2 separate regions of the Homo sapiens genome follow, and region 1 is linked to region 2. The links come from fine-mapping of genetic effects on gene expression. A gene starts in region 2. The other region holds a variant in brackets. All regions are shown on one strand. Distances are between the middles of the regions. Region 1 overlaps ARL3 (ARF like GTPase 3). Region 2 holds the start of ARL3 (ARF like GTPase 3).

Region 1 (5,370 bases), 40 kb after region 2:
CCATCTCAAGTTCAGGCGCTGGGCATCCCCCTCCCATCGCCCTCTTGTGCTCTCAGAGACCTCCCTCCTCCTCCTCCTGGGAGGTCACTGTCCCTGGTCACCCAGGTGGGCCCCTGAGCCAAGCAAACTCCCTAAAGCTGGCGGTCTGGGAGGGAGGGCCTGGGACCCCCACTGCCCGCCCCTCCAGGCTAGAGTGTGTGGTGCTTTTCTTATAACTAACACTGCCTTTCTCTGCCCATTTCCCTCAAAGGATGGCATGAACTGGGTCTGCAAAAATGTCAATGCAAAGAAGAAATAAAATCTAGACGAATGGAGATGCAGGAGCTGCGGGAGCCGAATTCGGTCCTGAAAAACACTAATTTGCTGCTTTCTGACCAAATGTTTTTCCATCTGTGTACAGCTCCAGCTGTTTGAAGAGAGGGAACAACACGGTTTAGAAAGAATCCCCATTCCAGCAGTAGATTTAACTGATCTCTGAGGTTCAGTATCATTTTTCAAATAAAGGAATTATATTATTTCCTCTGCATAATTGAAATAGTATTAAATGTCTCAAAGCACATGATTAGAAAATGAGATCTTTTAAATGAGCAAGAGATTGCATTGCAGTTTAGACAATTCCAGTGGGCTTTTTTTTCCTCTCAAAAAAAAAAAAAGAAAAAGAAAAAGAGGAAGAAGCAGCTTTGCTGAGTTCATTTATTTACTGACCCGTCCCTTGCATTCCCTCCATGGTTTTGAAACCACAGACAGTGTTTGCTGGTGCTGTCAGTGATTTTTACCGTCACTAGCCCAGCCAGGCTTCAGTCTGTCCGACAGGAAGCTGCTGGGTGGGGGTGGGGGGAGAAAAGGCAGATAATTAAACCATCTCATCGTCTTGCAGGTCGGAGACTACGTATGTAATCCTCACTCTTTGGACAGAAAAAAAAAAAAAAGTCTTTCTTGCAGACAAGTCACTACAGAAACATACCCCATCCCACCCACCCCTGCCTCTGCCCCAGCCAGCCACACAGAGAAGCAAATTCTTATGACTTTTGACTGTAATGACATCTGGAATGTAAGGAGAGGTGGGAGGTTTAATTCCAGAAAAATTACAAGGTCCTTAAAAAGCTCTCACATCGAGGGCTCAGGCTAGCGTAAACAGGCTTTCTCCAGCTCAGTGGAGCAGTGAGCAGCCGACTCTGAGATTAGCTGGCTTCTCCACGGCCGTCCTATAGACAGGATTTCTAAAGCTCAAAGAATTCTGTGTTTAAACGATCACAATAGGCCGCTGCTATCAGATTTTAGAAATAAATGCAGCTTTACCATGAACCTGCTCCACTGAGAAAAGCCAGGCAGATCGATTTTTAGATCAATTTTTACAGTGCTGGCAACTTGGTGGTGTGGGATGCTCCTGGATGGAGAGGGTTTGCTGCTGGGGAGGACATGGGTGTGTGTGTGACTGCAGGGGTCGTGTCCAAGGAATCAAGAGTCACCCCAGCTGCTGGGCTCCTCTGCCTCTCTGCAGCAGAATGTCCGTCCTCTGTTGATTGATTGGAGAGGAATAGCAGAACATTTCTCCTGCCCCTCGTTGCAAAACGAGCTTGTTTCCCTGAACCTCAGAAATCCTCAGCTTCAAACATGGGGAAACAGGCCAGAGCATTGCCCGGCTCCTGAATTAAACTCTGTTCTGGTGCCTGAGCTCAGGGGTTTTCAGAGAATGAATAAGAGACTGTCCAGTGACTGGTGGGTCCCTGGGGGCCAGCTGCCTTCTCATCCTGGGAGGTGGCCCTTCCCAAGCCCATCAGGGCGTGTGAGCAGACTGAAGGGGCCGCTGCAGCCCCTGGCCCTCAATACCCAGCTGCTTCTGGCTAAGAGTGCAGCAGAGACTGAGGCATAGCCAGCTTCAAAAGCGATCTGACATGAAAGTCATTAACAAAGCCAGCCGTGAAAAGGTGCCCCAGAGTTGCTGTGGACAGACCTGTAAGGACTTGCAAAACAAAAGAAAGTGAGGGGTTTTTTTAACCTCAGAGCTAGCTGCTCTCTGCAGCCTCCTCCACTGGCTTCTCTGGCTCACCCAAGCTCTCCCTTACAGAGGCAACACAGAATTATAAGGAATCAGAAATCCCCCTTCTACCAGGCTGCAAATGTGGCTCTAGCACTTGCAAATTGTTTTTTCTTCCGAATAGTTCAGCAGGGACAAGTTATCTGAGGGGCAAAATGCCTGCTTGGAGGTCTGCAATTTTGGAACACTGCAGTATGGAACTTTGGCATTGGAGGGTCTGTAAAATATTTTTGTTCTTTTACCACCAACTTAGGGGACTGTTTTAAAGAGCCATCCCAAG[G/T]CCTCTCCTAGCAGGCAGAAGCCACTCCTCTGATAACGGCCTCTGTAAATGTTCTGATTTGCTCTCAGCTGCAGAGACACAGAGACACTGCAGATGTCACACGCTTTCATCTTCCCTTTGAGCCCTTTTGAACCCTCCTGGGGCTCTGGGGTAGATGAGAGAAGCCTGAAAAAGGCAGAGTTTGAAAGCTCCCATTTAAAAACAAAATACTTTTTAAAGCCCTCTTGCCTCTTCCCTGCCCACTCCTGCCCCCTGACCAGAAGACAGAATTTGAAGCTGGAAAGGGAAGACCCCTTTTCCCCTCCTCCTGTCCCCAGTGAGTCTTAGCGAGACTTTTGCCCTGCGCACAATTGCATCTGAATGTGCGGGGGAGAGGGCTGGGGGCCGGAGGGCAGGCAAGGCCTGGGGGGTGCTCGTGATATGTGCTCAAGCCAGTTGTGGGAAAAACTCGAGTCCTCCCCTCCTCCCGACCTACCCCGTGTGGCTGCTTTTGGCTGGATTCCCTGCACCCAGTGCAACACACCCTTTCCCCTTCACTCTCCCTTGGTTACTATGGAAACAAGGGTGTCATTGATGTGGGCTGAGCTGGGGAACATGTCGGTGCACAGCTGAAAGTCAGCGATTATGCCGGCGGTTAGAAATGTGCCAGGGTTAAAGGAGTCCGCAGCTCCCACGGCTGCTGGGAGGACATGGTCCTGCCCCCTTCCTTCCTCCCTCCCTCCGTCTCCACTTCTCTCTCCTTGCTTTTGACAAATTTCTTTATTCCCCTCTGGACTAAAGTAGTGGCTATTTTTGTGCCACTCTGCGCCCCACCCTCACTGTTGGCCGCTCCTTATCCGGCCTGGCCTGGAGGGTGACACCATGTCACCCTCACCAGGACTCGTCTCTCCATTCCCGTCAGAGTTTGCTTTGATTTCCCTTTCCTTTCCTTCTCGGGGACCAGTTCTTACTTCCTTTTATTTTTAGCTCTGCACTCCATGTGGTTTCAGGGTTCAGTCTGATCCATCAAAAGGTTCTTTTTTTATAATCCCTTTTGAAAATGATAATCAAAGGAAGAGATGTGGTGTTTGGTCATGTGGAAAACTCAATGTATAATTTAGACGTCTGTCAAAAATCCGACAAATAAAATTTAGCTGGAACGAAGGCAGCCTGGAATGTGTTGTGTTCTTTGCTGAAGCTCAGAGAGGGCCTGAAATGTGTTTGTCCTTTCAGGGGTTAGCTTTCTTCAAGAGGTTTTTTCCAGAAGGATATATATATAAAATAGGATACCAACAATAGCAATAATAGCCCTTCATTAAGCCCCTCCTACGTGCCGGGCACTTCAGATACATCGTGGTGAGCATTAGTCCCCCTTTGCAGCAGAGGACATTGAGACATTTGCCCCAGTTAAGGAATTTGCCTGAAATCACAGAGCCTTTAAGTGCAGGTGGGGCCTGGAGCCTGGGTCTCAATGCTCAGCAAGCTGCCGCCTCTGGAGAACAAAAACAGTCAATGGCAAGGCCGGATCACGCCTGTAATCCCAGCACTTTCAGAGGCCAAGGCAGGTAGATCTCCTGAAGTCAGGAGTTCAAGACGAGCCTGACCAACATGGTGAAATCCCGTCTCTACTAAAAATACAAAATTAGCCGGGCGTGGTGGCACGTGCCTGTAATCCCAGCTGCTTGGGAGGCTGAGGCAGGAGAATTGCTTGAACCCAGGAGTCAGAGGTTGCAGTGAGCTGAGATCGTGCCATTGCACTCCAGCCTGGGCAACAGGAGAAAACTCCATTGCAAAAAAAAAAAAAAAAAAAAAATTTGTCAATGGCTCATCTCCCAGCAGCCTCAGCCCCCCCAGCCTCTGAGTGCTACTTCTGCCCAGCCTCCTCCCCTCAGCCTCTGACAAGCACTGCTCCCCTGGGTTCCCTGCCCCAGGTGTTGGGTGTCCTCTGCTCACACAGCACAACCATAGACTGGGTTTCATCCTTGGCCAAGTCCAGCCCAACAGACAGGAAAAAGGGAGAAGAAATAATTAGCAAAGTTAGGGCCTTCAGGGAGACTTGCAGTTACATAGTACCTAATACTGGATCTTCCATTTACAGAGGGTTCCGAGAGGGAACAGACCTGCCCAGTGTTACATGGAAGGTGCAGAGTTGGCAGCTGTCCCGGGCTCTGCCCTCTGGAGCAGAAGAGTTCGTTGTCCCTTCAGCAGGCTAGAGACACAGCAGCACAGCTGGTCCCAAAGGGCCTCACCATTTGTGTGTGTGTGTGTGTGTTTTGTGTTTTTGAGACAGGACTTCGCTCTGTCACCCAGGCTGGAGTGCAGTGGCACAGTCACAACTCACTGCAGCCTCAACCTCCTGGGCTCAGGCCATCCTCCCAACTCAGCCTCCCAAGTGGCTGGGACTAGAGGCATGTACCACCATGTCTGGCTAATTTTTTTTTTTTTTTTTTGAGACAGTCTCGCTCTGTCGCCCAGGCTGGAGTGCAGTGGCGCAATCTCAGCTCACTGCAAGCTCCGCCTCCCGGGTTCATGCCATTCTCCCACCTCAGCCTCCCTAGTAGCTGGGACTACAGGCGTCTGTCACCACGCCGGCTAACTTTTGGGGTTTTTTTGTATTTTTAGTAGAGATGGGGTTTCACCGTGTTAGCCAGGATGGTCTCAATCTCCTGACCTCGTGATCTGCCCACCTCGGCCTCCCAAAGTGCTGGGATTACAGGCGTGGGCCACTGCGCCCGGCCTTTAAAGAGCAAGCTGTGGGCAGAACTAGCTGGTAGCTGGAAGCAGGAGAAAGAAGAATTAGGGTTGCCAGATACATTACAGAACATTCAGTTAAACTTGAATTTCAGATAAACAATGAATAGTTTTTAATTCAAGTATATCCCATGCAATATTTGGGACATCAGTATAACATTAGAAAAATGCATTGTTTACCTTAAATTCAAATTTAACTGGCCATCCTAGCTTTTTGGTTTTGTTTTGATAAAGCTGGCAAAACCCTTCCCAGCACTCCCTGCCCAAAAAAGGGACAGCGCAGTGCAATTAAAAAGTGTGGCTGGGTGCGGTGGCTTATGCC
Region 2 (5,370 bases):
TAGCCTACTTGCCAACTCCGAGGCCTGGCACGGTGGCTCACACCTGTAATCCCAACACTTTGAGAGCCCAAAGCAGAGAGATCACCTGAGGTTGAGAGTTCAAGACCAGCCTGACCAACATGGAGAAACCCCCGTCTCTACTAAAAATAAAAAATTAGCCAGGCGTGGTGGTGCATACCTGTAATCCCAGCTACTTGGGAGGCTAAGGCAGGAGAATCGTTTGAACCCGAGAGGTGGAGGTTGTGATGAGCCGAGATCGCACCGTTGCACTCCAGCCTGGGCAATAAGAGTGAAACTCCATCTCAAAAAAAAAAAAAAAAAAAAAAAGGAAAGAAAGAGAGGGAAACAAAGAGAAAAAAAAAGTAATAGACTACTGCCACCTCTGACGTAATGCTCATCCTTCCCAGAAAGAGCAGATTTTCTCTGGCAAATGGTATCAGAGATCAGAAAACAAGCTTCCAAATTCCTTCTGAGGTATCCTCTTACAAGCAGAAGTGCACAAGATTACTGTTTGTAGCCCCAGGTAGGGAGAAAAACGAAACATCATCGCTGGTACTCACATCAGAGGAAGATCAAGGTAGCCAAAGACCCCAGAAGGTCAGACACAAAGACCACTGAGACAGGCAAGGATTAAGGTCAAGGCTGCCTAGAGCAAGCTGGAAAATGAGGGTAATAATTACAAGAGCAGGCCCAGGTATAGGCTTATGGGTACTCGTCTGACTCCAAGGCAAGTGGGCTGTTAGGCACCAGACAACTTAGAAAGAGCAACCTCCCTTGCCTTTTTCACAAAAGGGCCAACAGTCTGGAGATGAGTAGATTATAGGGGTTTGTGCTCCTGTATCACCTCCATTCATCACCTCCTTAGTCAAGGCTCTGAACTGCTTTTTCTCTCCAAGGATCTGAAGCAGGTATGCAAGCAGCAGATGTTGATTTTTGTTTTCATTTTTTTTTTTTTTTTTGAGGCAGGGTCTTGCTCTTTCACCCAGGCTGGAGTACAGTGATGTGATAATAGCTCCTGGGCTCAAGCAATCCTCCAGCCTCAACCTCCCGAGTAGCTAGGACTACAAGTGCGCCACGGAACCTGGCTAATTAAAAAAAATTTTTTTTTGTAGAGGCAGGGTCCTACTGTGTTGCCCGGGCTGGTCTCCAACTCCTGGGCTCAAGCCTTCCTCCCCTTCCACCTCTCAAAGTGCTGGGATTATAGGCATGAGCCACTGCGCCTGGCCGCAATTACCAATTTCTAGGGGTTGTGAAAATGAAATTTGGTATGAAATGTATTTCATTAGGAAGGATGTAATTTCCATACGGGCTGATTTTGTCCACTGCTGTGTCTCCAGCGTCTAGAACAGGGCCTAGCACGTTTGTGTAAACTCTTCTTATAGTCCTCTGCATCGGGAAAGGGATGGGAGGTAGCACTTCCCAACCCACCCCAGTGTCCCACTTGCTCTTCCTTGGCTAAAAATGCAGGCTCATTTTTGCCTCCTCCAGGACTACAGATGGTACGCGGTCCTGTCCAAAGCAGCTTAGCAAAACCGGCCAGAGGCTGGGCACAGTGGCTCACCACTTTGGAACACCTGTAGTCTCAGCACTTTGGGAGGCCTAGGCGGGCGGATGGCTTGACCCCAGGAGTTCGAGCCCAGCCTGGGCAACATGGCGAAACTCCGTCTCTACAAAAACAAAATACAAAAAATTATCCAGGCGTGGTGGCGCCCGCCTGCAATCCCAGCTACTCGAGAGTCTGAGGCGGGAGAATCGCTTAAGCCTGTGAGGCAAAGGCTGCAGTGAGCCGAGATCGCGCCACCGCACTCCGGCCCGGGCGACAGAGCGACACCCTGTGTCAAAACAAAAACCGGGCCGATCCCCAAAACGCCTTTCACCTGTGCTTTCAGCTCACCTCAGGGCTCAGGGCCAGCCCCCAGGCTGCTTCTTGCCCTCCGACAGACGGCCTCCCCCCATCGGTACTCCCCCATCCCGGACAGCTCGTAACGCCCCAGCCGCTCGGCCTGGCACTCCTAGGCAATGGGGGTCAGAGCAGAGGGGCCCATCTGCAGCCCCAGGGCGCACTTCGCGCCACGTGGCTTCTGCAGGTGGAAGTCCAGCCCGCGCTGCAGCCCCGCCTGGGCAGTCAGGACAGCAATCTCAGCACCCACCCGAGATGTGGGGATTGGAGGTAGACAGGGCGAGCGCCATTGTCCCAAGGCCCCTTACCTGGTCCCGGGACAAATGCCACCAGTTACAGCCCGCCTTGAAAACTGGCCCGGGTGAGAGGAGGACCTGGGCTGGGGAACTGCCCCCACGCCCGCCCCACGCCCCTCCTTTTCGACCAATCCCAGGCCGGGAGGCTCCCGCCAGCCACGTGGGCAGGCTTTCTCCACTCCCTGGTCCAGGCGAGCCGGCGGCGGCCTCTGCAGCTCCCGTAGCCCGCCCACTGCGTGGGCGGGCGCCTTAGCGCACTTGCGCACTCTGGGGAAAGCGGAGCTGCACCCCGCCCCGTATTGCTGCTCAGCTCCTCAGCTGTGCGTGCGAGGGACGTCGGGGGCGGCGCCGCAGCAGTTGCCCCTGGTAACGGGGGAGGCAGCAGGAGGAGGAGGAGGAGGAGGGACTCGGCGGGAGGATGGTGAGTGTGGGGGCCTGGGCCCCCTTGGAGCCGGCCGGTTATCCCCCTCCCGTCCCCAGGCCCAGGGCGGAGCACTGCGCTTAAAGCCAAGGAGGGAATGGGACGTCGCTCAGCCTGCTATCTGGGTTGTGGACTGATTTCGGGGGTCGGCGGGGAGACCCGAGGGTGGGCCCTGGAGGGAGGCCTGGGCCTGGAGAGGAAGGCGGGGCTTGCAGCGGGTCCGAGGCTTGGGGAAGGGGCTGGCAGAGTGCGCGGCTGGCCGGGTGCGGAGCCCGGGCTCCATCATTACTCTGGGGACAGGGGTGAGGGCGGATCCCAGGAACTGCGGAGAGCAGCTTTCGCTAGCAGGCTTAGACTTCCCGGGCAATCGGTCTCGCGGCTTTGCAGTAAAGTGGGGTTCGTCTGGAGCCCGGCCAGAAGCGGAGAGAAGGCCGGCCCCATTGGCTCTGAGGTCGCCCTGGCGGTAGCAGGGGAGATGGTAGCCTAGCTCTCCTCCTTCTCGCGCTGTGCGGGCCCCTGGGGGGTAGGGAAGTAAGTCCCACGACACAAAGGGGTGCCGCTTGGAAGGGATGCCTGGTGGATTTTACGCCGTCTTGGTGTCTGCGTGGCGGGTGCGCTTCCTCAGTCCCGAATTATTTAGTTATTTGCTGAGAGTTTTGCAGGATCTGATTGTTGGTGATGACCGATTTTTCATTCAATACATAATCCATGTTGATGAAGACATATTAGCTGCTCCGTCTCTAGAATTTCCTTCGAAACCTTTTGCAGTCTCCTCTTGCGTGTGACCATACCAGGACCAAAAGATCTTAATCCTAGCTTGAGTTCTCCAAACTGAAAAGAACGAGAAGTTAAAAATGGAGATCGAACTTCAATCCGGGGCAAGGCTTTTCTCTGTCAGTCCCAATTAAAGCTTTCCCAAATTCTAAATTATGGTTGTGACAGATCTGACCGTTGACACTCTGTTTCTTGTTAATGTCTGTACAGTTAGTTGGAGGGAGTTAAAATGGAATTGAGTAATTTTAGAGCTATCAAAGAAAAATTGATTTTGAACACTTAAAGCAGGTTAGTTGGCTGCAAAGAGCCTGTCATCAAACTTATAGTCACTGCTCCAACTCTCTTCCTAGTTCCTTTCTTGACTTTTAGAAATGTTGAGCCATTTCTGTTGATTTAAGAAGTAAAAAAAAAAACAAAAAAACTAGATGCCCAGGAAAAAAAAAAATAGATGTATGTTTGGTCAGATTATCCAGTGAGTAGATTTAGAAAGGAAAAAAAAAACTCAATTGATTTTACATTGTCAGATTGTTAAAGAAGTAGGGTTATTTGATCTGAAGTTGCCAATCACATTTCACACTTGCTACACTTGCAGTTTTTTTTTAACCTCAGGCTAAACAGATTTTTACAACTGTTTCTTTTTCTTAATCATTTATACGTGAGCTGTCCTTTTAAAGTTAAAGTTTTTCTCAACAAATGAGTACAAACATAAATATTTACCCAGAAAATAGCTAGAATTGGAATGAAAAGGGCATGCCGAACCAACAGAGATTGAGATTCATCATTATGGATGAGAAGTGCATGAGAGTTGGCTAACTTTTCCCAGTTTGTTGATCAATTAAGTGTACTGTGTAATCCATGATTGTTTAATTTATAATTACAGGCCACAGTAAATTAACCACTGCCCATGTTTCCAGGTGCAAATTGGCACAGTATACAACAAATTTACAGTGTATATACAACACTGTTGTATACAACTGTTGTGTTCAATGATGAAAACAGATTTTGTTTTTCTTTTTTCCTTTTTCCTAAGATGAACAATAAGAAATTAAGACAAATTATTCCGGATTCTTTATCTGGTTTCCCAAAAACATTTTTTTTCTATCTCCACAAGCGTGAGCTGTTCTTAAAACTTGAAGTGAAACACTGAATTTAGTCAGTCGTGTGACTTAAGTGTATCCCATCTGGTATCCCATGAGCCCCCATGGTTAACTGTACAACTGAAGCGTGAACCCCAAGGTTTTTTTGGTTTTTGTTTTAAACTTCAGCTGTGACAAATACATATTTTTTTTCAAATTTGGGTAACTGTGGCAAAAACCCAAATATGGGTTTCTCTGAACATTTAGAGTCAGCTATTTTACCCCTGCTTTACAGTGCCAGGTTCTTGATGAATTACTAAAATACTAAAATGACAGTAATTTTAGCACGTAACTAACCACTTATATTTAACATATGATTCCTTCATTCAGTAATTATTTATGGAGCACTTTCTACATATATGGAGCTTGTGGTCGTTCTCAAGCATGTTCAACATTTGAAGATTGTTCCCAACAGTTACTTATGTTTTCTGGTTAGAAAATGGCCCGTGAAAAATTATTTTAAAAAAATAAACAAAACACGAGGGTAGTCTTTTCAGTGGCTGTTATGTGTCATGCTTTACATACATGACCTCATTTCATCCTCATAGCATCATCTCTTGAGATGTAAGTATTGTTCCTGTTTTCTTCTTTTTTTTTTCTTTTTTTGAGACGGAGTCTTGCTCTGTCACCCAGACTGGAGTGCAGTGGCGCGATCTCCGTTCACTGCAAGCTCCGCCTCCCGGGTTCACGCCATTCTCCTGCCTTAGCCTCCGCAGCAGATGGGACTATGGGCGCCCGCCACCACGCCCGGCTAATTTTGTGTGTGTGTGTTTTTAGTAGAGACGGGGTTTCACCATGTTAGCCAGGATGGTCTGTATCTCCTGACCTCGTGATCCGCCCGCC

Evidence for each region. PIP is the estimated chance that this variant, and not a neighbour inherited with it, causes the effect. A credible set is the group of variants that fine-mapping cannot tell apart.
Region 1: its variant is the best candidate, but not a certain one, in a credible set for the expression of ARL3 in lung (TOPMed, PIP 0.76).

Annotation. Positions count from the first base shown.
Region 1 is chr10:102,671,822-102,677,191 of GRCh38, reverse strand. It overlaps ARL3 (ARF like GTPase 3), which reads left to right. Exons shown (of 6, transcript NM_004311.4): 6 at 251-3,461. The coding sequence ends at 298. Among named protein-coding and RNA genes, the nearest start is that of TRIM8, 30 kb to the right of the region's middle. RefSeq lists an enhancer at 2,838-3,387. The variant G/T (reference allele first, on the strand shown) is at 2,319.
Region 2 is chr10:102,711,520-102,716,889 of GRCh38, reverse strand. It overlaps ARL3 (ARF like GTPase 3), which reads left to right and starts at 2,493. Exons shown (of 6, transcript NM_004311.4): 1 at 2,493-2,617. The coding sequence starts at 2,615. It overlaps SFXN2 (sideroflexin 2), which reads right to left and starts at 2,254. Exons shown (of 12, transcript NM_178858.6): 1 at 2,209-2,254. RefSeq lists enhancers at 1,276-1,851, 1,852-2,428 and silencers at 2,214-2,363, 2,182-2,576, 2,644-2,693, 2,734-2,833.